Linked DNA regions of Homo sapiens: regions 2, 3, 4, 5 and 6 are each reported to be linked to region 1. Evidence: microRNA targets listed by miRTarBase, many of them from high-throughput screens and not tested one by one. Region 1 holds a microRNA gene; each other region holds the end of a gene's coding sequence.
What was found. The annotated mature microRNA hsa-miR-7110-5p reads UGGGGGUGUGGGGAGAGAGAG and lies in region 1 at 2,967-2,987, shown strand. An mRNA with a match to its seed (bases 2 to 7 or 8) in the 3' UTR can be bound and repressed. Matches are read on the target gene's strand: a 7mer-m8 pairs with bases 2 to 8, a 7mer-A1 pairs with bases 2 to 7 and ends in A, and an 8mer does both.

Region 2: miRTarBase lists POMGNT1 as a target of hsa-miR-7110-5p. Seed matches in the 3' UTR shown: 7mer-A1 at 3,524-3,530.
Region 3: the mRNA of SH3BP1 is a reported target of hsa-miR-7110-5p. Seed matches in the 3' UTR shown: 7mer-m8 at 3,559-3,565.
Region 4: the mRNA of NAB2 is a reported target of hsa-miR-7110-5p. Seed matches in the 3' UTR shown: 7mer-A1 at 776-782.
Region 5: the mRNA of POLR2E is a reported target of hsa-miR-7110-5p. Seed matches in the 3' UTR shown: 7mer-A1 at 2,610-2,616.
Region 6: the mRNA of HACD4 is a reported target of hsa-miR-7110-5p. Seed matches in the 3' UTR shown: 7mer-A1 at 983-989 and 7mer-A1 at 2,186-2,192.

Annotation. Positions count from the first base shown.
Region 1 is chr3:123,158,833-123,162,931 of GRCh38, forward strand. MIR7110 (microRNA 7110) reads left to right here and starts at 2,962; the gene lies at 2,962-3,047. It overlaps PDIA5 (protein disulfide isomerase family A member 5), which reads left to right. Exons shown (of 17, transcript NM_006810.4): 16 at 2,489-2,623; 17 at 3,048-3,272. The coding sequence ends at 3,128.
Region 2 is chr1:46,185,703-46,189,712 of GRCh38, forward strand. It overlaps POMGNT1 (protein O-linked mannose N-acetylglucosaminyltransferase 1 (beta 1,2-)), which reads right to left. Exons shown (of 22, transcript NM_017739.4): 21 at 3,756-3,865; 22 at 2,981-3,655. The coding sequence ends at 3,568. TSPAN1 (tetraspanin 1) reads left to right here. Exons shown (of 9, transcript NM_005727.4): 9 at 1-260. Among named protein-coding and RNA genes, the nearest start is that of POMGNT1, 11 kb to the right of the region's middle.
Region 3 is chr22:37,655,181-37,659,279 of GRCh38, reverse strand. It overlaps SH3BP1 (SH3 domain binding protein 1), which reads right to left. Exons shown (of 18, transcript NM_018957.6): 18 at 3,163-4,008. The coding sequence ends at 3,596. PDXP (pyridoxal phosphatase) reads right to left here and starts at 557. Exons shown (of 2, transcript NM_020315.5): 1 at 1-557. The coding sequence starts at 497. PDXP-DT (PDXP divergent transcript) reads left to right here and starts at 903. Exons shown (of 6, transcript NR_109952.1): 1 at 903-1,025. RefSeq lists silencers at 61-170, 371-680 and enhancers at 181-682, 871-920, 931-1,000.
Region 4 is chr12:57,093,999-57,098,097 of GRCh38, forward strand. It overlaps NAB2 (NGFI-A binding protein 2), which reads left to right. Exons shown (of 7, transcript NM_005967.4): 7 at 614-1,478. The coding sequence ends at 723. STAT6 (signal transducer and activator of transcription 6) reads right to left here. Exons shown (of 22, transcript NM_003153.5): 20 at 3,070-3,135; 21 at 2,852-2,980; 22 at 1,410-2,763. The coding sequence ends at 2,574. Among named protein-coding and RNA genes, the nearest start is that of NAB2, 6.9 kb to the left of the region's middle. RefSeq lists enhancers at 1-201, 1-242, 734-1,264, 1,809-2,645, 2,323-2,442 and a silencer at 238-307.
Region 5 is chr19:1,086,082-1,090,180 of GRCh38, forward strand. It overlaps POLR2E (RNA polymerase II, I and III subunit E), which reads right to left. Exons shown (of 8, transcript NM_002695.5): 5 at 4,006-4,064; 6 at 3,803-3,881; 7 at 3,391-3,470; 8 at 493-2,639. The coding sequence ends at 3,405. It overlaps ARHGAP45 (Rho GTPase activating protein 45), which reads left to right. Exons shown (of 23, transcript NM_012292.5): 23 at 1-547. Among named protein-coding and RNA genes, the nearest start is that of POLR2E, 7.2 kb to the right of the region's middle. RefSeq lists enhancers at 1-308, 2,875-2,974.
Region 6 is chr9:21,003,788-21,007,886 of GRCh38, reverse strand. HACD4 (3-hydroxyacyl-CoA dehydratase 4) reads left to right here. Exons shown (of 7, transcript NM_001010915.5): 7 at 768-4,099. The coding sequence ends at 850. Among named protein-coding and RNA genes, the nearest start is that of HACD4, 26 kb to the left of the region's middle.

The DNA of each region.
Region 1 (4,099 bases):
TGGGTGTAAGGGGACAGGCATTTAGGTGAAATTTCAATAGCTGAGAAGAGCTTTATTCGCTGCCTTCTTTCCAAAGAGTCTAAGCTGCTGCCTTTGGGGAGGACGCATTTGTCTCTTCTTCTGTGGAAAACGCGCGTGGATTCACCTTTGCAGCTAGAAGTTGCATTCCATGTGTGCGGCTGGCAGCTAGTTTAGGTGATTCAGAACAAGTATACATTTCTAATTTAGTAGATTTATAAAACCATACACTATATTTCCAATAGCTCCAGGGCATTGTATACAAATTAAATTCATAATTTAAAGCAGATGCAGGGAGAGCAGCAGCCCAGAGCCATGTTCATCCAGCACTTTCATGGCGGAGCAGCAGCTCCTGGCCCGGGCTGGGCATGGGGCCTCAGCCTCTGGCTGCAGGGAAGGAAAGTATGTGGATGCCCGTGTCCCTGGGCAGGGCCCCATAGCACCTGCCCTGAGAAATGGAACCCCACAATTTGGCCAGGGGAGCATCTGCCTCATGTTTTTAAATAATAAAGTGCGTTAGAGGTGGGCTGCGGTTATCAGAAGTGCATAGGGGCCAGTCTGCTGGCCTGGGTGAACTGGGCTCCAGGGGGTGCTGGGGAAGGTATGTTTAGCCTACCTGAAGGACAGCTGCCTCTCTGCCCAGCCAGTTGTCACCTGTGAGACTGCAGGGTAAGTGCCATCAAGTCTTCTGACTTTTAAAGAGAAGCTGGAAAGCCAAATTGTTGTATTAAATCTTCTGGCTCCATTTCTATGTTGGAGCTAATTCAGATTTATTTTTTTTGTTGTTGTTAAATTCAATGTGGGCCAAATAGAAGAGGACTGAGAGCCAGATACAGATTGCAGGCAGCAAGTTTGTAAACTCCATTTTAAAAGTCTCACCGTATAGAATGTTACATAGCTGAAGAGTAGAAGGGAAGCGTGAGGGTGAGGGGGGTGAAGGTGGCACCTGGTGGCCAGGGGAGGCCGCACCTCACTCTTCTCTTCAGCTATCCATCTGGCAGCTCACCTGGGCATGAGGGACATGATGAGTAAACGTGGCCATGGGGGCCCACAGGATTCTCCTACCTGGAAAGGGGCTTTGTCCAAATGCAAATAACCATCAACCAAAGAACTGTGTGAATCATGGTTATTCAATAATTTTAAATTATCTTATTGAATCACCCTCTTTTAATTTCTTCCAAGCATTCATTGAGCTCTATCTAAAATGATCTAATTTGTCATACAGCAGACGCTTGATAACTGGACTTTGTCAAGGTCGACGTTGTCCCCCAGCATCTAGAACAGGCTTGGCACACGGCAGGGTTTCAGTGTGTGTTGCCTGGTAGGAGGACTCATTCTCATGGGAATCTGCCCCATCTTCCATAACACCTCTGTACTGGGTATGGCCATTGAGGACCCCTTCTCGGGCTTCCCTGGTGCATGACCCTCAACCGGAAACAAGTTCCCCATTTCTGCTTTATACTGTCTTCCTTTGAAAAAACAACAAATGATGAGGAAAAGCTACCCAGCATGTGGAATTTGCTAGATGGTCAAGAAGAGGCCAGTGGCCAATGTGGGAACCACTTTCTGACCAAACATTCTGATGGCTTTACTCATGCGGGGCTCCTCCAGTTTCCAGATGTGCTTCCCTGGTCTCCTCCTCTTCCAGTCTTGGCTCAGATGGCGAATCATACAGAGCGCCTTTGCCCCACTCACCTGGCACCTGGACCACCTCCCTCATCCCTCACATCACATCATGTTGGAATTGTCCCTTTATCCAACCCCTGCCCAGACACTGAGCCCCTAAGTGGGGACAGAGCTTGTATATGGGGTTGGAAGAAGTGACTGTAATAGCAGCTGACATTTCCTGACCATGAATCTGGTGCCAGGTTCTGTGCTCACTGGCCTCACTGGAATTCTCTTATTCAGTCTTCACAATATCCTGATAGCCTAGATACTATTATTATCCCCATTTTACAGCTGAAAAAAATGAGGCACCAAGAGGCTGAGTTATTTTCCTTAAGTCTTACTGTCCAGGCAAACCAAGAGTGCACTTGGGGAACTTGACTTGAAAGCTCTTGCCCTTAACCTTGGCACTATACTGTCCCCCCAAGCTAATGTTCCGGAAATATTAGTGGAGAAATGATTAAATCCTACAGTCCCTTACAGATAGCACCACAGAACCTGTGGTGTTTACAAATGCTTTCAAGTCATCATTTCCTTTACGATCATCATACTCTTGATTTTAAAGGACAGTCTAAAGGCACTCCAGGCCGAGTCCCCTAACCTTACCCATCTGGAAATTGAAAACAAGCACCATCAGTCTCCAAGGAGTCCTGAGCTGGGGGTGCTTTGGTTCAGTTCCTACCTGCCACTGAGGAGAAAAATCAGAGTGGGCCTGTGACGTGGACTAGATGTGCAATCTGTGTTGTGGGGTCCAGGCCTCAGCCTGGGGACACCCTGTGCCAACTCTCTTTACCTTGGCTCCTAGATTGCCTGTGCCGCTGTTGACTGTGTCAAAGACAAGAACCAAGACCTGTGCCAGCAGGAGGCGGTCAAGGGCTACCCCACTTTCCACTACTACCACTATGGGAAGTTCGCAGAAAAGTATGACAGCGACCGCACAGTAAGTGGGGGAGAGGCGTCTGCCCAGAGCTCTCTCTCTGCTGATGGGCAGGGAAACTTCCACTGAGGAGGGGCAGCACTGGGCAGCATCCCAGAAACTGCAGAAGTCAGCTGGAACACTGCACCGAGAGGCCCAGGCCCTGGGCCTGGCTGAGGCTTGACATTGTTGGAGGAGAGTCCCAAGGGGTTGCCACAGATGTCCTGTCCCCAGAGGCAGGCTGGACTCCAGATGCCGAGGGTTTTCTCACTTGCTGGTCGGGGCTGGTGCAAGCCACGCAGACCCTCTCCACCTTGCAGAAGTCTGCCCACCTCTCCCTGTCATAGGAGTGACCCCCTGGAGGGGCTGGGGGTGTGGGGAGAGAGAGTGCACAGCCAGCTCAGGGATTAAAGCTCTTTCTCTCTCTCTCTCTCCCACTTCCCTGCAGGAATTGGGATTTACCAATTATATTCGAGCCCTCCGGGAGGGAGACCATGAAAGACTAGGGAAAAAGAAGGAAGAGTTATAATTCCTGCCTCAGAAAAAGCTTTTCCATTACACTGTGAATGATACCTGTTTTGTTGTTTCTGAATTTCCACATGTTCTGAAGACAAATTTTTTATAGCCGCTTATGGCCATTTTGTACAATTTTGAAATAAAATTAAACCATTTATTTGGTGGTATGGTTTATTTTCGTGGAGCCTGTACTAAAAAAGGTGGATACTCACATCCTCCTCATTCCACCACCTCTGCTGGGAGGTACAGAGCAGTGCTCCAGTGCCCCATCTGCATGGAGGTGACTCCTGAGGGTGTCGGCCCCCTGTCAGTCATTTGAGAGCAGAACAGGGAAACTGGACCGCAGAATATCCTGCTGGAAAATGACAAGCTAATGAGAGGAAATACGTCAAGATGATCAATGACTTTGGGAGGCTGAGGTGGGAGGATCACTTGAAGCCAGGTGTTCAAGACCAGCCTGGGAAACATTATGAGACCTCATGTCTACAGAAAATAAAGTTGCTGGGCATAGGGGTACATGCCTATAGTCCCAGCTACTTGTAAGGCTGGGAAGGGAAGATTTCTTGAGCCCAGGAGTTCAAGGCTGCAATGATCTATGATCGCATGACTACTCCAGCCTAGCTAGAAAGCAAGACCTGTCTCAAAAATAGAAAAAGAAAAAGAAAGAAAAAAACAAAAGATGATCAGGGAAATTGGGATGCTGAAGCAAATGGTAACCAAACACTAGCTTCTTCTGGATCATTGCGGTTTCAGCATTGGTGTGTTTCCTCTGTGTGTGTTTTCCTGGAACTTACTTAGGTATTTATCTTTCTCCAGCTATTTGTCTTCTCTTCGTCTCTCCATTCCCTCCCCAATCTCCCTTTAAAGAAAATTAAGTTGCCGCTTCAGGGGCATGAATGGAGTGGGGGAAGGGGGGCTCTGTGCCAGCTGCTTGCTGTGCACCCTGGCTGGAAGGGATGGTGTGTTCTCGAGGTGCAGATATTA
Region 2 (4,010 bases), not on the chromosome of region 1:
GGCGATGCCTGACTTTCCTTCCATTGGTGGGTGGATGGGTGGGGGGCATTCCAGAGCCTCTAAGGTAGCCAGTTCTGTTGCCCATTCCCCCAGTCTATTAAACCCTTGATATGCCCCCTAGGCCTAGTGGTGATCCCAGTGCTCTACTGGGGGATGAGAGAAAGGCATTTTATAGCCTGGGCATAAGTGAAATCAGCAGAGCCTCTGGGTGGATGTGTAGAAGGCACTTCAAAATGCATAAACCTGTTACAATGTTGCCAGTTGGACTCTTCATGTATCCTTGGGGAGAGGGGCCTAAACTGGCCACGGATTCCTGTGGGGCTGCCAACTCAGAAGGCCCTGGAAAGGAGGGAAGTAGGGTGGGGTTGGGGGTCAGAAGTGGTTATTTCTCCCCTTCATTTGGGTTCCAGGCCTTGGAGGGAAACTAAGAGGGATGGCTGAGAGGGCATGAAGAAGTACAGTTGGGTTAGGCCAGTCTGCCTCCTTATAAAGGGGAGAACTTTGGACTGAAACTACCCCCTCCTGGGTAGGGGCACTGGACTGGAAAGCTATGAAAATAACAAGCTTGTGACGAATTCTTACCAGGGCAATGGGAAAGGGTCACTCCTTAGGTTCTGGGAAGCCCTTCAGGAGCCCCCTTCCTAGGGTCCAGGCTGCCTGCCTTTCCCACTCAGGCAAAACCCCAGATCTGTCCCTGCTTCTGGGATCTCAGCAAGCACTTCATTTTTTCGTTGCTGCTGGCCTACCTGGTGTTCTTCAGACCTCACCTCTTTTTCTTTTCTTTTCTTTTTTTTTTTTTTTTTTTGGGACAGAGTTTCGCTCTTGTTGCCCAGGCTGGAGTGCAATGGTGTGATCTCGGCTCACTGCGGACTCTGCCTCCGGGTTCAAGCAGTTCTCCTGCCTCAGCCTCCTGAGTAGCTGGGATTACAGGCACCTGCCACCATGCCCGGCTAATTTTTGTGTTTTTTTTTTTTTTTTTTTGAGAGAGTCTCGCTGTCGCCCAGGCTGGAGTGCAGTGGCGCGATCTCGGCTCACTGCAGGCTCCGCCCCCTGGGGTTCACGCCATTCTCCTGCCTCAGCCTCCCGAGTAGCTGGCACTACAGGCGCCCGCCACCTCGCCCGGGTAATTTTTTGAATTTTTAGTAGAGACGGGGTTTCACTGTGTTAGCCAGGATGGTCTTGATCTCCTGACCTCGTGATCCACTCACCTCGGCCTCCCAAAGTGCTGGGATTACAGGCATGAGCCACCGTGCCCGGCCACGCCCGGCTAACTTTTTATATTTTTAGTAGAGACAGGGTTTCACCATGTTGGCCAGGCTGGTCTCGAACTCCTGACCTCAGGTGATCCACATGCCTCAGCCTCCCAAAGAGCTGGGATTACAGGCGTGAGCCACCTCACCTGACCTAGACCTCATCTCTTCTTTAGCCCTAACTATCCCTATGCTCCAGGTAGGAAACTAGGGATCGGAAAGGCCAAGATACTTGCCCCAGTCCCACAGGCTTCTGTGAAGAGCTCAGCCTAGATTTGGGCCCAGAACTCCAGCACCTGGTGTAGTCCTGGCTGACATGGTACTAGTTCCACTTGAAGGGGCAGCTGGCCAGAATGTCTGATATAGACCTGATCACTGTTGAGCCAGGAGTGAGAGGCCTGAGGGAGGCTATGGCAAGAGGGTACAGTGTCTGCTACCAAGCAAAGCCCAGCCTAACAAACCAGTCCCCCTCCTTACTTCCCTTTGACCCCTGTAACTCTCTTCCTGAGCTTTTCCAGGGCAGCCCAGAACCACCACCCCCTTGCTGAGCCCAGAAAGGAAGAGGGACCTGGCCAGAACCAAACAGTGCCTTAGAGCTGGTCTGTGAGGGCCAGACCAGGAGCCTGCTAGGGTGCGGGACAGGGGGAGGAGCTAGCCTGCCTCACCCCTTCACCACCATACTGTGCCTCTCACACTTCTCCTCTGCCGTGTGCCTGTGTGGAGGCTGCATGGGATTTGTTTGCCCAGGGCGGGCCTCTACCTCATCATGGGCTAATTGCTGCTCAACCTGGCTGTTGTGCCACCTCAGGCACTATATCCAGCTCCAACAAACACTGAAGGCGTCAGGGTGGCGAGATATGTCCAAGCGACATACCACCCATGCTGTCACCGAGTTGGGCTCCAAGCACCTGTGAAAGAGGCAGGGCAGAGAGCAGGCAGGAGGGCTGGAGTTCCAGCTGGAGTTCTGTACTTGTACAGAGGCAGGCAGACCCTTTCTGAAGAGGTGCTCCACACTCATCCTCCTGACATTAGGCCCTTCACAGATCCCTTAAATGTTCTTTTCCCTGCCGTAGGCTTTCTCATTCACTCCCTCTGGACAATCCCATCCATTTTCTGGTGCCCCTATGACTAACTTAGATCTTCCTAACCTCTTTGGGTTACTGGCTATGTGAGAATCTGATGAAGACCATGACCCATTTCTCCACAAAAATGCCCAGATAGAGAATTCTGAATAGCAAAGTGCTCTAAGGGCCATAGACACCCTTGCTCCTACATCTCCATCTGCACCCTAGCCCGTCTCTTGAATGATGCCTGCCCAGTCCTGTCCCATCCACTTCCTTCCCACCCCTACTATGCACACCTGCTCTCTCATTTCCTCTTCCAACTCCCCAGTATCCCTTTTTGTTCTCTCCTGCTCTGTCTCTGGGGACAGGTGCCCGGCCCAGGCAAGATAAGCAGGAACCCGGCTGGTGGTTAAACGGTGGGGAAGAGGTAGGGTGGCTGCTCCAAGCCTCAAGTAGGGCGGGGCTAAAGTCAAGCTGTCCTAGGGTAGAGTTGGGGAAAAACCTTGGAGTTTGAGACTCAGGCATCCCCTGGTGGCCAAATGGCCCCAAATGGAAGATAAACTCTGTGGAGGACAGTAAGGAAAACTCACCATCCAACACAAGTATTCTCTCCACCACTTCCCTCCAGCACCCCCCTGACACACAAAATCACAATCACAAGACATCCCCAGAGGGCTTCTCCTTTTTTAATCAATGACCAACTTATCCAGCTTTGGAAATCTGGACAAAGAGAAGGCTGAGAGGAGGCCTGGTCCAGTGTCTAAGGGTCTCTGAGTGAGTCTGTGTCAGCATGTGGGCCCCAGCTGGGCCTGTCCATGGGTTGGGCACAGCAGTTTCCTGAGTAAGAGCCAGCCCCACCCTCAGGGCAGCATTCCAGCCCAAAAAGAAATCCAGGCCCTCCAGGTTCGGCCTGTTTTCAAGGCCCTCAGGACAGTCAATAAATAGGTTAGATTCTGAGCCAGGCCTGGAAAGTGAGGGTATTCAAAGGGCAGGATGAGCTGCTAGGGATCGTAATGATTCCCAGGTACTCTCCTGCCCTTCTCCAACAAGGAAGTAAATAAATAGACTTTTAACTCAGGAACGGGGTGTTGGAGCAGGGGAACCCTCCCCTTGGAGTTAGTAATTAAGTCTCATGTTAAAAACAAGGTAGCCCCAGCCCCTACCAGCATCTACAAAATCCTACAGGATGGAGGGAAGGGCTAGCCAGCCTGGGGGTACACAGTACCCAGCCCCGCAGGGTCCTGGAGGAGGTCTCATGTCTGTTCTGGGGCTCCTGGGGCTCCCTCCTCCTTTGGGGGTGGCTCCAGGAAAATTGGGGTGACTGAGGGTGGCTTCTTCACTCTGGGAAAATAATACAAGAATGTATAGAGAAGAAGCCATTAGCTATATCCCTGGATCTCACTAGGCCTCCTGTTTCCCAGGGCAGAAAAGGGTCACTCACGAGTAGGGGGAAGCCGGGACCCCCACCATCAGGAAGTGGTTCTTCTTCCGAAACAATCTCCACAGGCCCCGATGGTTGCCACGCACATCCAGGTCCCAGATATGGAGGCACTAGTGAGGGTGGGATGGAGACAGAGACATGGGTCAGAGAGCTGTAGGGAGGGGTCACTGACGACCCTTTGGCCCAGCCCCCACCCCTCCTCAGAAACCACCTCAATTTGTAAGAGATAGCATCTTTTAGAATATGAATTTGGAC
Region 3 (4,099 bases), not on the chromosome of region 1:
AGGTGCGCGCACGCCTCCCTCAGCTTGGCGAAGGAGAAGTGCTCGTCGTAGCCCACAAGCACGGCGCGCACGCGCGGGGCCGCGCCGTCCCCCGCGCTCGGGTCCCCGGCCAGGCGCAGCCCCGCGGCGCGCAGCTCGGCGCGCAGCCCCTCGCCGCCCAGCACGAACACGGCGCCCGGCGCGTCCGGAGGCCCGGGCAGGCGCTGGCGCAGCAGGCGCGCGGCGCACAGCGCGGAGCTGAAGAGCTGCTCGGCGCGCAGCCCCCCGAAGCCGAGGCGCGCGAAGCGCAGGGCCAGCTCGGGCCGCGCGCGCCGGCTGTTGTTGCTCACAAACAGAGCCGCCTTGCCGGCCCGCGCCAGCCGCTCCAGCAGCTCCGGGGCGCCCGGCACGGCGCGCTCGCCGTTCCACAGCACCCCGTCACAGTCGAACAGGACCCCCTGCGCCCGGCCCAGCACGTCGCGCAGGGCCGCTCCGCGCAGCCTCTCGCAGCGCGCCATGCAGCCGGCCGGCCGCCGGCCTCCCGCGCCGCGCTCTCTCCGCGGGCACGGCGCGCTCTCCCTGGCACGTTCCACGCAGCCGCCAATTGGCGCGCTGGAAGGACCGGGGGGCGGGGCGACGGCGTGGCCTGCAGCCAATGGGGGCGAGAGTCTGGGAGAGGAGCGAAGCCGCGAGCTAACGGAACTTGGAGAGAGGGGCGGATTCGTGGCCAACACCGAGGGGAAGGGACCAATGAAGAGCTAGCTTGATCCTTCTCCCCGTCCCTGGTTCTGCTGGACCAGTCGCCGCCGAGTTTCAACGCCGACTACACTCTTACGCGGTGGGAGACTGACGCTCTTCTTAACCAATAAGAATCTACAAACAAAACGCGAAGCGAAAGGCCCCGTGCCCTCCAGCCAATCAGAAGCTTAGGCGAGCTGGTTGCTGGGAGAAAAACAGATGTTAAATGAACTGCCTTTGGGTCGAATCTCATTGCCCCCTGAATCGTGGACGCTCCAGTTCAGAGCGAAGTCCCAAGAAACGTGTGTGTACGATGGGGTACGAGGCACATGGTGTCTTCTTGGGTGCTGGAGCCCTCGGTCTAGACCAGTAGTTCTTCACACTGCGTTAGAGTCCCCTGGGAACTTATTTTCAGATATCATTTACATATAGTAAAATGCATAGATCTTAAATGTACAGTTCAATGTCTTGACAAATGCTTTTGAAATCACCGATGTGTAGCAGGACAGATCCTCATGTAAGTGTTTTGGGTGAAGACTGGGCATTTTTTGGTTTGTTGGTTAGTTGGTTTAATTCCAGGGATTCTACCGTGAGCTAGGATAGGGTAGGGAAGCACTGGGCTAGAGGCTGGTAGGCTGTCACTGCAGCACGCCCCGGGAGGGCAGGATCCAGAATGGTCGTGGCCAATTGCCCAGAATAGTAATGGGGTGACCCAGGTTGGCTGGGTCCCTGTCTTAGGGAGGAGGCCTTGTGATCTGGAAGCAACCACAGGTCTTGGGACCTTTGAGGAGCCACTGGTCTGCAGTGTGGGGATGAATGAATTGTGAGCTGTGGTGTCACAGTTTTGAAGTTGTCTGCCAACTTCAGATAAGGCTGTGACCCCCAGGAGCAACTGGAGCTCCAACGACTTGGGAAAAACTGTACCTTGTACCCAACCTTGGAAGCTCAACTAGCTCCTATTCCCCAAGTGCCCTAAGCCTTTTGCTCCTGGCCTTTGCATAGATAGTCTCCTTGGCCTGAATGTTCCTTTTTCCTTTAAAAATTTCACCTTCAGGGCCGGGCTCGGTGGCTCACGCCTGTAATCCCAGCACTTTGGGAGGCTGAGGTGGGCGGATCACGAGGTCAGGAGATCGAGACCATCCTGGCTACGGTGAAACCCCGTCTCTACTAAAAATACAAAAAAAAAAAAAAAAAAAAAGAAAAAAATTAGCTAGGCGTGGTGGCGGGTGCCTGTAGTCCCAGCTACTCGGGAGGCTGAGGCAGGAGAATTGCTTGAACCCAGGAGGCGGAGCTTGCAGCGACCTGAGATCGTGCCAATGCACTCCAGCCTGGGCAACAGAGCGAGACTCCATCTCAAAAAAAAATAAACAAAAAATAAAAAATAAATAAAATAAATAAAAATAAACAAAATTCACCTTCAGGTCAGCTCCTGAAAGACTTCCCTTAAATATCACCTTCTCCAGGAAGCCGTTCTTAACCACCCACCCCATACCATGAGTCTAGGTTATATGGCCACCCCTAACTTGGCTAATATGGGCTCCCAGTGCAATGACACTTGATTTTTTTTGTTTTTGAGACAGGGTCTTACACCGTCACCCAGGCTGGAGTGCAGTGGCATGATCACTGCTCACTGAAGCCTCCAACTCCTGGGCTCAAGCGATCCTCCTGCCTCAGCCTTCCTAGTTGCTGAGACTACAGGCACACGCCACTACACCCAGTTAATTAAAATTTTTTTTTTTGTAGAGACAGGGTCTCACTATGTTGTCCAGGCTGGTCTAGAACTCCTGGGCTCAAGTGATCCTCCTGCCTCAGGCTCCCAGTGCTGGGATTATAGGCATGAGACACCGTGCCTGGCCAGACACTTGATTCTAATGGTTGCTTCTGCCTGTCTGTTTGGGAACTCTTTGGGTGTAGGGTTAAGTCTTGGAGCTAGCTCAGGGCCTGGCACAGAGCAGATTTAGGGAAGGTTTGAGGACAGATCCATCCCTGCTCCTTGGGGAGGCTTCCCAGCCTCCTCCCGGAAGGAGAGTGAGGGGTCCAGGAAACAGTGGGAGCGGTAGGGGCTTCTGTGGGCCAAGGGTGGTGCTTTGGTTTTCAATGGAGAGCAATACCTCTGTGGAGGGAATTGTTATAAAGTTTCACAAATGAGGAAAAGGGATACCAAGAAGTTAAGTAAATTGCCCAGAATGTGAGGGACAAGCCAGGCTTTGGAGTCAGACCTAGGCTCTAATCCCAGGCCCCTGCCTGACTGCCGTGTGACCTTGGCAGGTCACTTCTGTCTGGGCCTCAGTCTCCTCACTGCTAAGAGGTAATGGTATTTCCTGCAGTAGGAGAAGATTAAGTGGAAATCATCCACAGAACAGCACAGCATGTAGTGCAGAGAAAGCTCTAAAAATGTCTGCTGTGATCTCACTTCAGACAGGAAGAAAGGAGGCAAAGAATATGTATTGTTTTCCCCTTTATAAAATTGGCTTCTTTATTTCAAGGACAGAAAATAAAACTATCATTTGGGCAGCTGCTCCAGTTTTGTCCAAAATAATTTATTTACCAGCCTTACAAAAAACATGTCGGCAAGAGAAGAATCAGTCCCGTAGGAGCAGGCAAACCTCTCCTTCCTTCCGGTGGCTCCCCTAGGACCTGCCGGAGAGTGGAGAGTCCGGTGGGGGGGTCCCCAAGCCCAGGGTGGACGAGGAAAAGGTCAGGAAATAGAGGATTGTCCTGAGCCCTCCTGGCCATGGGGGCCGACCCAGTGGGCACTGAGGCACTTGTGGGCAAAGGCTGGAGGCCCATGCCCCTTTGTGGGGGGCGAGAGCTGTCCTGGGAGGGCCAGGTGGGGAGGGAGGGGGTGCTGAGGGCTGCTTAGGGAGAAACCAGCCACTCAGTTGGTCTCTGAGGCAAGGCTCCTGGGGCGGGGCTGAGGGGGGATAGCTGGGGGAGTGGGGACCCCACTGATAGCCTCAGGGGCTCCTCCCTCTGCTGTGGCAGCCCCCAGGTCCACCTGTGCAGGGTTACTCAAAGAGACTGGGCTGGGGGAGGCTGGACCTGGGGAGGCCGGGCTGGGGGAGGCTGGTGAACGCCGGCTTTGGCGCCGGGCAGGCTGAGGGGGTGTGGGGGGTAACGGGGGTGGCACTGTGGGGGCTCGGAGGCTGCTGCCAACCAGACGTCGGGGCAGGGCTTGGGGGGTCCCAGGGCTGCCAGAGCCAGGGGGCAAGGGCGGGGCTGGAGGGGAGGAGCGGGAGCCGGAGACCTGGGGGGGCGGCATGGTGGGCCGGGCTGGCGCCGGGCGCTTGGCTGTTGAGGAAGGAAAGGGTGAGGGAGGCTGAGTGTCCACGTGGCCTGTGGTGAATCCACCAAGCTCCGTGCCCCCTCACAACCTTTGCAT
Region 4 (4,099 bases), not on the chromosome of region 1:
TTTGTGTGTGGAAGGGGGAAGAGGGAGTGGGCAGGCGGAGGGCCGGGCAGCCGCTGGGCTGAGAGTGACGCAGCAGACAAAGCCACCAACCCTGGCTTGGTATTTTTAAACTGTGCGTGGGTGGGAAGTGGGGGCGGGGACTGGAAGGGGGGCTCTTCTTGAGGGAGGAGCTCGGAGGCTGGCTTCCTGTTCTCCCTCTGATTTGGCTACCAAAAAACTTGGGGGGCCATGGTAGAGTGGCCTGGGAGGGGCCTGGGAGGGGGCCAGGGATGAGTGGGGGTGGCAGAGCTTGGGAAGGGGGGAGGGGAGAGGTCAGAGCCAAACCACCCCCGCAGCTCCTGACAGAACCAGAAATTCCAGCGCAACCGAGGAGGCGGGAGAGAAAGAGAGAGAGACAGACAGAGACAGAGCTACGCACAGCCAGGGAGGGGAGGGGGCTCACACACATGGGAATGGAACCCCCCATACACATGCAGTGGGCAGGAGGCAGTAATTCAATAAACCTAAACTGAGCCCATCTTCACAGCTTTCTTTGCCCCTGCTTCTGTTCCCAACCACCTCTGTCTGCAGCCAGTCACCCTGCAGTCTCCTAACTGCCCCCTTTTCCCTGCAGAGTTCGAGGAAGGGCTGCTGGACAGATGTCCTGCCCCAGGACCCCATCCCGCGCTGGTGGAGGGTCGCAGGAGCAGCGTGAAAGTGGAGGCTGAGGCCAGCCGGCAGTGAGGGTTGGACTGGTGTCTTCAGACCCAGGACCTCAGACTTCTGGCTCACACAGACCCCCACGCTCTCCATCCCCGGAATCTAGTCACAACCCTGGATCCTTCCTCTGCCCTTCTCCTGCCTCCCCACCTGCTCCATGGGCATAAGACTGTGGGGCTTCAAGCAATAACAAGCAGAGGCCTGGAGAGAGGACACAAGGAGGGTGCGTGGTGCCCTCACCCCTGCCCAGAGCGAGGGGGCAAGGACTCTGCCTCCAGGGCATCTGGGGTTTTCCCCTCCCTCACACAACACACTCCCATTCTCTTTAGGTTTGCACCAGTGGTGTGAGCAGTTGGACTCAGTTTGGACAAGGGGGAAAGGGGGACTTCCCTGGGAAGGTCCAGCTAAAAGTGGCAACATTTGCCCCCAGAATTGGGGGCCTGGGAACACTGGACCTGCTCCTTCTCCCCTCTCCTTCCCCGTTTTTGTGCTTCTGGTTTGTTTCTTTAATTAATTTAACAAGTGCTGCAGTTTGCCCTCCCATTCCCATCTATCCCCCAAGTCCTTTGCAATTTCTTCCCTGCCCTACATAGGGGCGGTGGGTGTGGGATCCCTTCACTGGCCCCCTCGGGAGGCCTGGGTTGGACTCAGGGTCTCCTCCAGCTGGGGGCTGGACCGCAGCACCTATCTGAGCAGTTAGAGCGTCTTTCTTTTCAGATTGTGTACAGTAGATTATTTATTTTGTTATTTTGGAATAAAATTTATTTTATGGCTTAGGATCTATGACCCCTGCCTTGAGAGGGAGAATGGGATAGGGGAGTGAAGGGAAGCTGGCGGTGGATGGGGCAACAGAAAAGATGCAGCAGGCAGGGCCCTCTCATACACTGGAGGGCCACATGGCCAGGCCTGGACCCAGACTCTCACCCTGGCTCCCAGGCAGCATTGGAGGTGTGGAGCCATACGTAGATGTCACAGCCACTTGGACCCACTTGGGCACAGTCAGACTCCAAATTCAGAGTATTTGGGGGTTAGCATATGTCAGAGAGGCCAGCACACTTGCTGCTGTCTTCTGTGCAGTGTCTCACCCTCCCAAATTTGTGTTGTCACGTAGGCAAAAGCAGATAGACACATGTTCTATGTGGTCATGCAACTAAGGTGCCAGCTATACATTTAACATATCCTAGGTACATACACGTTCACACAGCTATACACGAAGAATCTCAGCCCTTGTACTTTTGCATAGTCTCATACACGTATCAGAAGCCTCCACCTGGCTAACAGGAATTTGGGGCTTTGGGAGATTTTTTAATCAGGGCAAAACCTGTACTAGTAACCACATGTCCAGACCCCTCCTATGCTCCCACCCAGGGTCCCTTGAGCTGCTTCCCATTCCCCTAGGGCTGAGACCCAATATCCTCTATCCCTGGCCTCTAGTGTAAATGTGTCTGTATGTTCCTGCCTATCCGTCCTAGGCCCTGGGTCAGAATGGGCGGAGAAGCCTTCCATGCCCTAACCTGTGCTCTTACCCAGCCCCCCTCCTGCTCAGCCCCATCACCCTCAGAGAGCTCTGTATGTGTGTGTGCGTGCGTGTGCGCGCTGCAGGTGCAGGCATGTTGGGGTGTGTCTCAGAGCCTGAACTTCCCTTCCAGTCAGTGCTGGAAGGAGGTGGGCAGGGGAATGATAGAAAGGAAGGAGTGGATTGGCTCCACCCACTGTGCATTCTCCTGTTAGTCTTTTCCTCCTGACCCAGGAGTAGGTGGGGATAGGAGGGCACCCTCCCCATCTGCTGCTTGGCAGGGCATGAGCAAGTGTCCAGAGCAGGTCTGTGGGGGTAGTAGAAGAGCTGTCTCTTTGGGTTCTCCCTCCAGCTGGGATCACCAACTGGGGTTGGCCCTTAGGTCCATGTGGGACATTGAGATCCCAGATTGCCCATAGTGGGAGGGCTGCAGGAGGGGCTGTGCCCCCAAGGACCCTCCCCCCGACTCCCCTTGCCCCTCCAGGAGAAGCTTAGTGAGGTCCTGTTCAGTGGGAGGCAGCAGAGGAGGGAATATGTCTTCACCAATCCTGCAAGGAGATGGGAGAAGCAGTGGAGTAGGCATGGCGCCCACTCCCCTAGATGCCACCCAGCCTCCACTCCCAAGCTGCCACTCACCAAGTGCCCTGAGGAAACGCTGTCACTGGCTGGCTCAGGCAGCTGTCTTCCACCATGGTCACATCTGAGCAGAGCAGGGGGTCAGGGCTGGACACAGCATGCTCCTGAGGCTGGCACGGCAGCAGGCCCCTGCCAGGAACCAGCAATGGAAATAAGGAGAGCGGGGCAAGGCCAGGAAAGAAGAGGCACATGGGGTCAGGAGGGGCTTTGTCACTCACTGGGGGTGAGGCTGGTCAAAGGGCAGGCTCATCTGGCCCAGGCTGGGGGGCATCTGCAGGTGAGGCCTGGAAGTAGGGAGAGCACAGTTAGAGGAAGGCAGGCTAGGCAAATGCAGAGTGGTGCAAAGTCAGGACCACTGAGTGAGGAAACAAGCTCCAGCTCCTTATCCTGACTTAGTCATGGCCTGGGCAAGCTATTTCTATGCTCTGAGCTCAGTCTTCTCATCTGTAAAATGTGCGTGTTATGGGGGTGGATTAGCCAATTTCTAATGTTTCTTTGGACTCTGAACTTTGGTAGTTCTTAAGTCCCCAAGTCCTCACTCCCGCCTCACCTTCTGGGAAGGGAGATGTTGTGTCTTGACTAAGTTAATAAGCACCCGAGTGTCATACTTCGGGAAGAAAAATGTCTAGGCCATTTCAAGGCCAAAACAGATGAGTAAACAAAAACCAATACAGCAGAGAAGTGACAGTGGCTCTCAGGGGCAGGACAGAAAATAATAATAACAGTCATGCACCACATTAACGACATTTCTGTCAACTACAGACCACAGTGGTCCCATAAGATTATAATCAAGGCCAGGCAGAGTGACTCACGCCTGTAATCCTAACGCTTTGGGAGGCCGAGGTGGGAGGATCACTTAAGCCCAGGAGTTTGAGACCAGCTTGGGCAGTAAGTGAGACCTTGTCTGCAGAAAAATCTTAAAAAAGAATTAGCCGAGTGTCGTGGTGCACTACAGCAGGAGGATTGCTCGAGCCCAAGAGGCGGAGGTTGCAGGGAGCTAAGATCGCACCACTGCACTCCAGTGAGTGAGACCCTGTCTCAAAAAAAAAAAATTATAATCAAGCTGAAAATTCCTATCACACAAATATTTACCATTATGTTACTATTTCCTTATACTATTCAGAACAGTATCATGCTGCTCGGGTTTAAAGCTAGGATCAATAGGCTACACAATATAGCCTCAGTGTATAGTAGTCTATACCATCTAGGTTTGTGTAATTATACTCAATGGTATTCGCATAATTATGA
Region 5 (4,099 bases), not on the chromosome of region 1:
GGCATAGCTTAGGTGCGCCGTCCTGGGGTCGCTGCCGAGAGCGCCTGGACTTCGACGTCCCACCAGCGGGCGCCTCCTCCCAGAGGCTTCCAGGAGCACGAGGGCCTTGCGGCACAGGACTGTGCCCTGTGCTGTCCCCTGCACCCCGGCTCAGCTGAGCTGGGGAACACTGCTGTCGTGTGAAGTCACAGTGGCCTTGTTGGTGCCCACAGGGCTGTGTGGATGGAGGAAGCTGTCCCTGCCCAGTGCATCCCCCAGGTCATCACGGGGACGCAGGAGGCAGGCCCTGCCCTGCCCTCTCCTCACAGGTCTGTTGCAGGGACTCCAGAAACCATTCTGGGAGCCGTGGATGGGGGCGGAGCTGGGGTTTGGTGCAGTTTCCAGGGTGCAGTACAGCAGGGCCTGAATACTGGCCCTGGACTCCCTTTTCCAGAACACCAGGTGTGGCCACCTGGGGCTCAGGTACACAGTGGGGTCTCTCGGAAGCCACCGTGTGGTTCTTTCACAGGCACGTTTATTTTGCTGAAATAAAAAGTTTTTAATCGGGTGTTTTCTGTGGCAGCTGCAAGCTTAGAAGATTTTCTGTGGCAGCTGCAAGCTTAGAAGAAGGGGCCAGGGAGGGGACAGAGAGAGCCCCGTGGCGTGGCCCTGGGCCTCCCCCTAGGGGAGGGATGTGTGAGGAAGGGAACCCCCCGCCACGGGGCCCCGCGAGGTGGGAGCCCGGGTGGTCTTCACCACAGGCTGTGCAGACGGTCAGGCATCGAATGACCTCGTCACGTCCACCTGCAGCCCAGGGCAGTCCAGGAAAACGTTCTCGATGACGGACGTATCCCCCGGCTCTAAGGTTTCGCACGTCAGCCCCACATGGCCACCAAGCACTGGAAACGTGGCCCATGCGCCTGTGGAACTGCATTTTTTTTTTTTTTTGAGACAGGGTGTGACCCTGTGGCCCAGGCTGGAGTACAGGAGCACAATCGTAGCTCACTGCAGCCTCGGCCTCCTGGGCTCAAATGATCCTCCCGCCTCAGCCTCCCAAAGTGTTGGGATTACAGGTGTGAGCCACTGTGCCCAGGTAATCTTAAAGTTTTTTGTAGAGGTGGGGGGTTTCTCTGTGTTGCCCGGGCTGGTCTTTTAACTCCTGAGCTCAAGCGATCCTCCACTTCCTGGGTTCAAGTGATTCTCCTGCCTTAGCTCCCAAGTAGCTGGGATTACAGGCATGCACCACCACGCCCAGGTAATTTTTGTATTTTTTGCAGTGATGGGATTTTGCCATGTTGGTCAGGCTGGTCTCGAACTCCCGACCTCAGGTGATCCGCCCACCTCGGCCTCCCAAAGTGCTGGGATTACAGGCGTGAGCCACCGCGCCCGGCCACCTCCAGAATTTTCTCATCTTCCCAAACTAAAACTGTGCACATGACACACTCTGTCCCCTCCCTCCTCCCCAGCCCTGGGAACCCCCATCCCCACCCAACTCCCCAGTCCCGGGAACCCCCATCCTACTTCCAGTCTCTGACGACTCTAGTGACCTCCTAGGAGTGACATCAGTGTTTGTCCCTTTGGGTCTGGCTTGCTTTGGCCAAGACAATTTTGAAAAAAGTACATTTGGAGAGAAGGGGAAGCACTGTCCCCATCACACACACAGTCCGCGGCCTGGGGATCTGGGGACCCTGCTGCACAGAACAGTGGGCGCGTTACAGACCACCGACCGCCCGAGGGTGAATTACATCTTAATAAAGCTACTGTGAGAGAACCACGTGGCTAGGTTAAACTTGGGCAGGCGAGGCCTTCTGAAATCAGACAGTAAGCAAACGGGGAAGTAGAGCCAGATCCCAAACGTCTGTAAGAGGAACTGGCCGCAAACCACAGCTGCACAAGCCAGAGAACAACTCCACACCCTCACGGGAAGGGAAGAGACAGACACGCTCACGCCTTACCCAGGAGCACGAAGTGGGAGGGCAGGGCGAGGGCCTGGGGAGACACTGACCCCTGAAGCCAGCGCGAGGAGGGCACACCTGCCAGGCTGACCTCGTGTGCTTGGGGTGAGGCAAGGCCACCTGCTGGAAACCTTGTTAGTCGGCCTGGTTTCTGTATCAAGCAAATTTATTTGCTCAAAACATCTTTACCATTTGAAAACACCCAACCTCCTACAACAACCGAGAACTCCAGAGCTGGCATCTCGCACCCTGGTGGCTTGAGCGCGTGCATGGCTGTGAATGGAGTAAAGAGCCGAGGCCGGGCGGGGGCCGCCACGCATCAGGGCCCCCGAGGGAGGGAAGACGAGGGGTGGAAGGCCGAGGGCCCAGGAGGAAGCAGTGGCTGGTGGGAGACCCGGACCCCAAACCCCCAACAGAGGGGACCCAGCGTGGTCTGGGTGAAGACCCGGCACCAGCTGCCCCCAGGTGACCTCCCTCTGGGGGCCTTGTTCCTTCTGAGGCTGCATCTCGCACAAATCCACAGGTGAATGGGGCGGGCTGGGCCACAGGAAGCCTCACCCCAGGACGGGAGAACGTGGGTGGAGGCCACCTGCCTTGGGGAGTCCAGAGGAGCAGCAGCCGTGAGAGCTGTGGGGGCCGGATTCTGGCAGGGCAGGGGCGTTTGTCCTGCAGGGATGGGGGTCGCTGTGTGTCCGCCTCTAGGGGCTAGGAAAGGGGGAGAGTGGTCACACGACAGGGGCAGATCCAGTATGCCCAGGACAGCACAACGCCCACCGAACGTGACGGGGTGCGGGAGGCCTGGCAGGAGGCGGCCCAGGCCGCAGTGCAGAGGCCGGACGGCTCCCTTGTGCCCAGCGGTCACACAGGCGTGGGCAGTAGCTCTGACCTCAAAGGAACCGTGCCAGCGTCAGACCAGGCCAAGCCCCACCCCTGGGCTGAGTGTGAAGTGGGGCGGCCTGCAGGACAGCAGCTCGCCATGACCAGAGTCCAGGGGAAGCTGGGAGGCTCTCGCCATGGGCAGAGGCTGTCCCGCTCCTGAGACTCCGGCCAGTCCCTCCCAAGGTGCCCACTCAGGGAAGGGTTGGCCTGAAGCTGTGCCTCCTCTCTCAGCTCTGGGGTCTCTGGGCAGGTTTCTAAACCCTCTTCTGGAAAGTCCCGCCGCACAACTGCCCTGCAGGTGAACGTCTCCTGCTTCTAAGGTGGGTCAGCGGCGGAGAGACGCACGCCCCGCGTACCAGGACTCTCCCGTCCAGGCGCACAGCCCCAAGAGCTGCAGCCTACGGTCGGGTGGGGTCTGGGGGTCTGGGGGTGTCCTGGGAGCGCCTGGTGGCCCAGCTGGGCTGGTGCTAGGAGGGTCTTGCTGCCGGACAAAGCAAGAACAGCCCTGCACACCGACGGAGGGGACGACACCCCTGCCTCTGACCCCACCTCAGTGCCTGTCCCTCGGCCGTCTCACCTGTCAGGCGGTAGCTACTGCACCAGCCGGTAGGTGATGTACCTGCCAGCCGTCTCACTGGGCCGGATGATCTTCACCACCTGCAGAGACAGAGAGCAGGGGCTGCGAATGCTTGAGGGGTCTCACTGCAGTCACCAGACAGCAGGCGGGCAGCACACGGGCTGGGGATGGCCGGCAGGGGTCCGAGATGGCTGACCCTGGGCTGTGGGACCCGCTCCCTGGGAACCTGGGTCACGCTCTTCTCTGGGCCCAGTGGCCCTGGCTTTAAGAGGGGGATATTGGGGGTGTGGTCTCGAGGTCCCCTCCAGGCCCTGGATCAAGGGGGAGGGGCTGTCGGGGAGGGACAGAAGCCCCCTTCTCCGAGTGGTCAGCTCAGAGCAGCCCCAGGGCCCCTTCTCCCCACAGGGCTCACCTGCCCACGCTTTATCCCAAAGTAGCGCGCCACAGGGTCCCCCGCCTGGATCCTGGGCAGCTGGTTCTCTCGGAGCTTACTGCGAAGCACCGTCAGGAAAATGCCAGACAGGGCCGTTGGGGGGGCAGGGGTGTGTGTGGGGGGGGAACGCGGAAGTCTCGAGGGACAGGGAGGGGCGGGGCCGGTGGGGCTGGAAAGGATACTATCGGGCCAGCAGCTCTGTCACCTCCTCCTTGGTCATGACGACGTGCTCAGGGACTAGCTGCCGAGAGAGGAAGCCACCAGGCATCACCAAGG
Region 6 (4,099 bases), not on the chromosome of region 1:
GCTAGTAAAGCCCCTGGAGGTTATAATGCTTTTTGCAGGGCATCATGGGATCATATATTTCACTTTCACTGTACAAATAAGAACAATTTTACTATCAGAAAATATAGCTGCATTATGTATGAGATATAGAAGTTTTGACCATGTGCACAGGTATCTACAAATAAAACCTAGATGTCAAACTAAGAAGAATTGGCTATTTCTGATGTTTCCATTTATATCCATTTTGTTTCTTGTTTGTTTGGCTTTTCAAGCTGGCACTTCCTATCAGGCAAATGGGAGTCGGTGTTACAGACTCAAGAGAAATGTATGGAACAAAAACTTACCCTTGAATAAATTTGATCATTAAACCTAATCATTTTCCAGGAAATTGGGGAAAAAACTTTCACTATTAAATTTTTGTTTTCCCAGCTCTAACCTTCACAAATCTCCAAAATAATGATTATCTCTAGAAGGTAACAGATATCAAACATATGAACAACATATAGAGAGAAAAGACAAAAATGTGAAACTTTAGAGGAAGGTGGAGAGAGCTATGCTAAAGAAAGGAAGACAATTCCTTGCATTAAAAAAAGTAGGATGGAAGAGTTTGATTTACCTCTCTTTCTGCATAAAATCTGGACACTTCTTTAAACATTCCTTCTCACATCTCCCTTGCAAGTGTCTTCTCCCTGGATTTGGGCAGCACTCTGACTGTATTTTAAAAGCATTGTTTCTTCCAGAGAAATAGTTAACCTTACTTACTTTTGCAACTTCTTTCTCCATATTAGGTATGTATTTTACCTACAGTCATCTATACTCAGAAAGAAGAGACATCCTCGGAATCTTTCCCATTAAAAAAAAGAAGATGTGAAGTACAGCATTCCAGTGTGACACGAGAAAAGACAGGCTGTGGATTCAGTGCAGTAAATAAAACACAGGAAGTATTCTGGTGGAAAAATACCTTGTATTTGATAAAAATCCATTACATGAAATAACTGCACATACCCCCAAAACTCTAGACATAACAGGCTATGTTTTTCACACATTGTATTTTTAAGACATATATATTCTCCATACCCTGCTTCACCAAAATTCCTGCTTCATTTGGATTTTATACAAGTTATACTTACATTGTATGAAGTCTGATTATTTTCCTGTAAGTTTAATGAGAAATAGGAGATTAGCTGCAATAGATTCAATTAAATTAAGAAACCAAACTTGATAACCTAAATTACATGTATTCTTTTTCACTTCCAAGTTCCCAAATAGATCTGTAGGAGAAGAGGGATGGAAAATATATTCCACAGTTGCCTAGAATAACATATTTCATAGACAGATGTCTGTCTTCAGATCTAATAATACTCACCCTAAACATTAGATATGTTTAGAAAATTAAATATCTTTCCAAGCCCTATGTCTTAGCTCAGGTTGCTATAATAGAACACCATAAACCGAATGGCTTAAACAACAGCAAACGCTTCTCACAGTTCTGGAGGCTGGGAATTCCGCTCAGGATCAAGGCATCAGCTAATGCAGTTTCTGGTGAGGGCCCTCTTCCCAGTTTGCAGATAGATGTCCTTCTTTGTCCTCACATGAGAGAGAGATCAACTCTCTTATGTCTCTTATAATGGCACTAACCCCATTCATGAGGGCTCTACCCTCATGATCTAATTACCTCCCAATGGCCCCACCTCCAAATACCATCATATTGGAGGTTAGGGCTTAACACATGAATTTTGGGGGAACACAAAGATTCACTCCATAGCATTCTGTACCTGGTCCTACAAAATTCATGTCCTCCTCACATGCAAAATACATACATTCCATCTCGACAGCCTCAAAAGTCTTAACTCATTCCTGCATCAACTCTAAAGTCCAAAGTCTCGTCTAAATCAGATGTGGGTGAGATTCAAGGTAGAATTCATCCTGAGGTAAAATTCCTTTCCAGCTTTGAACTTGTGAAATGAAACAAGTTATGTGCTTCCACAGTACAATGGTGGGACACACAAAGGGTGGACATTCCTATTCCCAAAGCAAGAAACAGGAAAAAAGGAAGGTGTAATGGGTCCCCAGCAAGTCCAAAACCTAGCAAGGCAAACACCATGAGATCTTCAGTCTTAGTAATAATCCTCTTTGGCCTGATACTCTGGCTTCAGGACCCAGTGAGGCAGAGGTATTGCCCCCAGGACTATGTTGGAGGAGGATGACCCCCATATCACCAGGCGGAAGCTGTCAGGCCTGTTGAAACCAAGGCAATGACTGCCCCTTTTGAAACTGAGAAGGTACCACTGATGTTCTCTGAATCATTGTTCCGGGTCAGTTTCTCCTTTTCTTGAAGAATAGTGTACATTCACAGCTGAATAGCTCTATGGTCCCAAATTCAAGAAGTCCAACAGTCTTCCCTCATTCTGTCCCATCTCCATTCCTTTCAATACAAACTAGCAGTGTTCCTGCTGGGGTGGCTGATTAGGTCTGTGGTTCACACCCACATAAATCTAATTGGATGACTTGTCTGCTACACTCTTAGTGTTCTCTACCAAACGTGTTTTCTTATCTTTTTGTAATGCAGACAGACTGATAATTTCCCACATCTTTTAAGTTCTGGTTCCGTTTTTGTTAAGAATTCTGTCTTCATTTTTTGTCACATTTTACTTTAAGCAGTCAAGATAAACCGAGGCACTCCTTCAACACTGGTTGGAGATCTCTTCAGTTCAATATCTAATTTCATGGCTCACAATTTTACTTTCCACAAAACACTAGAACATGAACACAATCATCCAAGTTCTTTGGCATATTATAACAAAGATCACCTTTCTTCCAGTTTCCCATAACAGGTTCCTCATTTTCATTTGAGACTTCATCAGAATGGCCTTTATTGTCCATGTCTACCAACATTATCTTCATGGTGATTTACGTGTTCTCTATGAAGATGGAGGCTTTCTCTCCCACCCTCTTCTCTTTGAGCCCTCACCAAAATCACCTCTATCAATCCCTTCATGGCAATACTGGCTTTTTCTAGCAAAAAAACTAGTACCTCAAAACTCTTCCAGTACTCTTCCAGGTACTCTAGTACCTCAAAACTCTTCCAGCTTCTATCTGTTACCTAACGTCAAAGCTGCTTCCACATCTTTATATATTGGTTATAGCATCACCACACTTCTTGGTACTAATTGCTGTCTTAGCTTGGCTGCTATAACAAAATACCATAAACTGGGTGGCTTAGACAACAAATATATTTCTCACAGTTCTGGAGGCAGGGAAGTCCAAGATAAAGGTGCTAGACAATTAAGTTCCTGATGAGGTTCCAAGGTGCTAGCTGATTCTTCTTCATGGTTTGCAGATGAATGCCTTCTTGCTATATGTTCACATGGTGGAGGGAGAAACCATCTCTCCCTTATTTCTTATTGTAAAGGTACTAATCCCATTTATGAAGGTTCCAGCTTCAAATGCCATCACACTGGAGATTAGATTTTCAACATGTGAATTTAATGGGGGACACCAGCATTCAGTCCCTAGTGCTCTGATAGAGTATTCATTAATGTCATGTATTTGTTAACATCTTGTAAGTTATTTGGGCTTTGATGCCTTAAAAGAAGACCCTGGCCAGGCATGCTGGCTCATACCTGTAATCCTAGCACTATGAGAGGCTGAGGTGGGCAGATCAGTTGAGGTCAGGAGTTCAAGACCAGCCTGGCCAACATGGTGAAACCCCATTTCTACTAAAAATACAAAAATTAGCCAGGCATGGTGGCGCATGCCTGTAATCCCAGCTACACGGGAGGCTGGGGGCATGAGAATCGCTTGAGCCCAGGAGATGGAGGTTGCAGTGAGCAGAGATTGAGCCACTGCACTCCAGCCTGGGTGACAGAGTGAGACTCTATCTCAAAAGAGAAGACCCTAATGAAAATAGTAAACCTTTAGCAAATACACAAATGATGCCCCATTCTGTATTCTTTTTAATTTTAAAAATAATGACACACACATACAGGAAGATAAAAGGTATAAAAATATACTAAGTACTTTTTAAAAAGGAAAATTCATGTTTTGGATTATTACTGAATTGTTGCTAATTACTGTAATGTAAGTCATATGTCCTTACATAGTTTTGAAAAATGCTTTC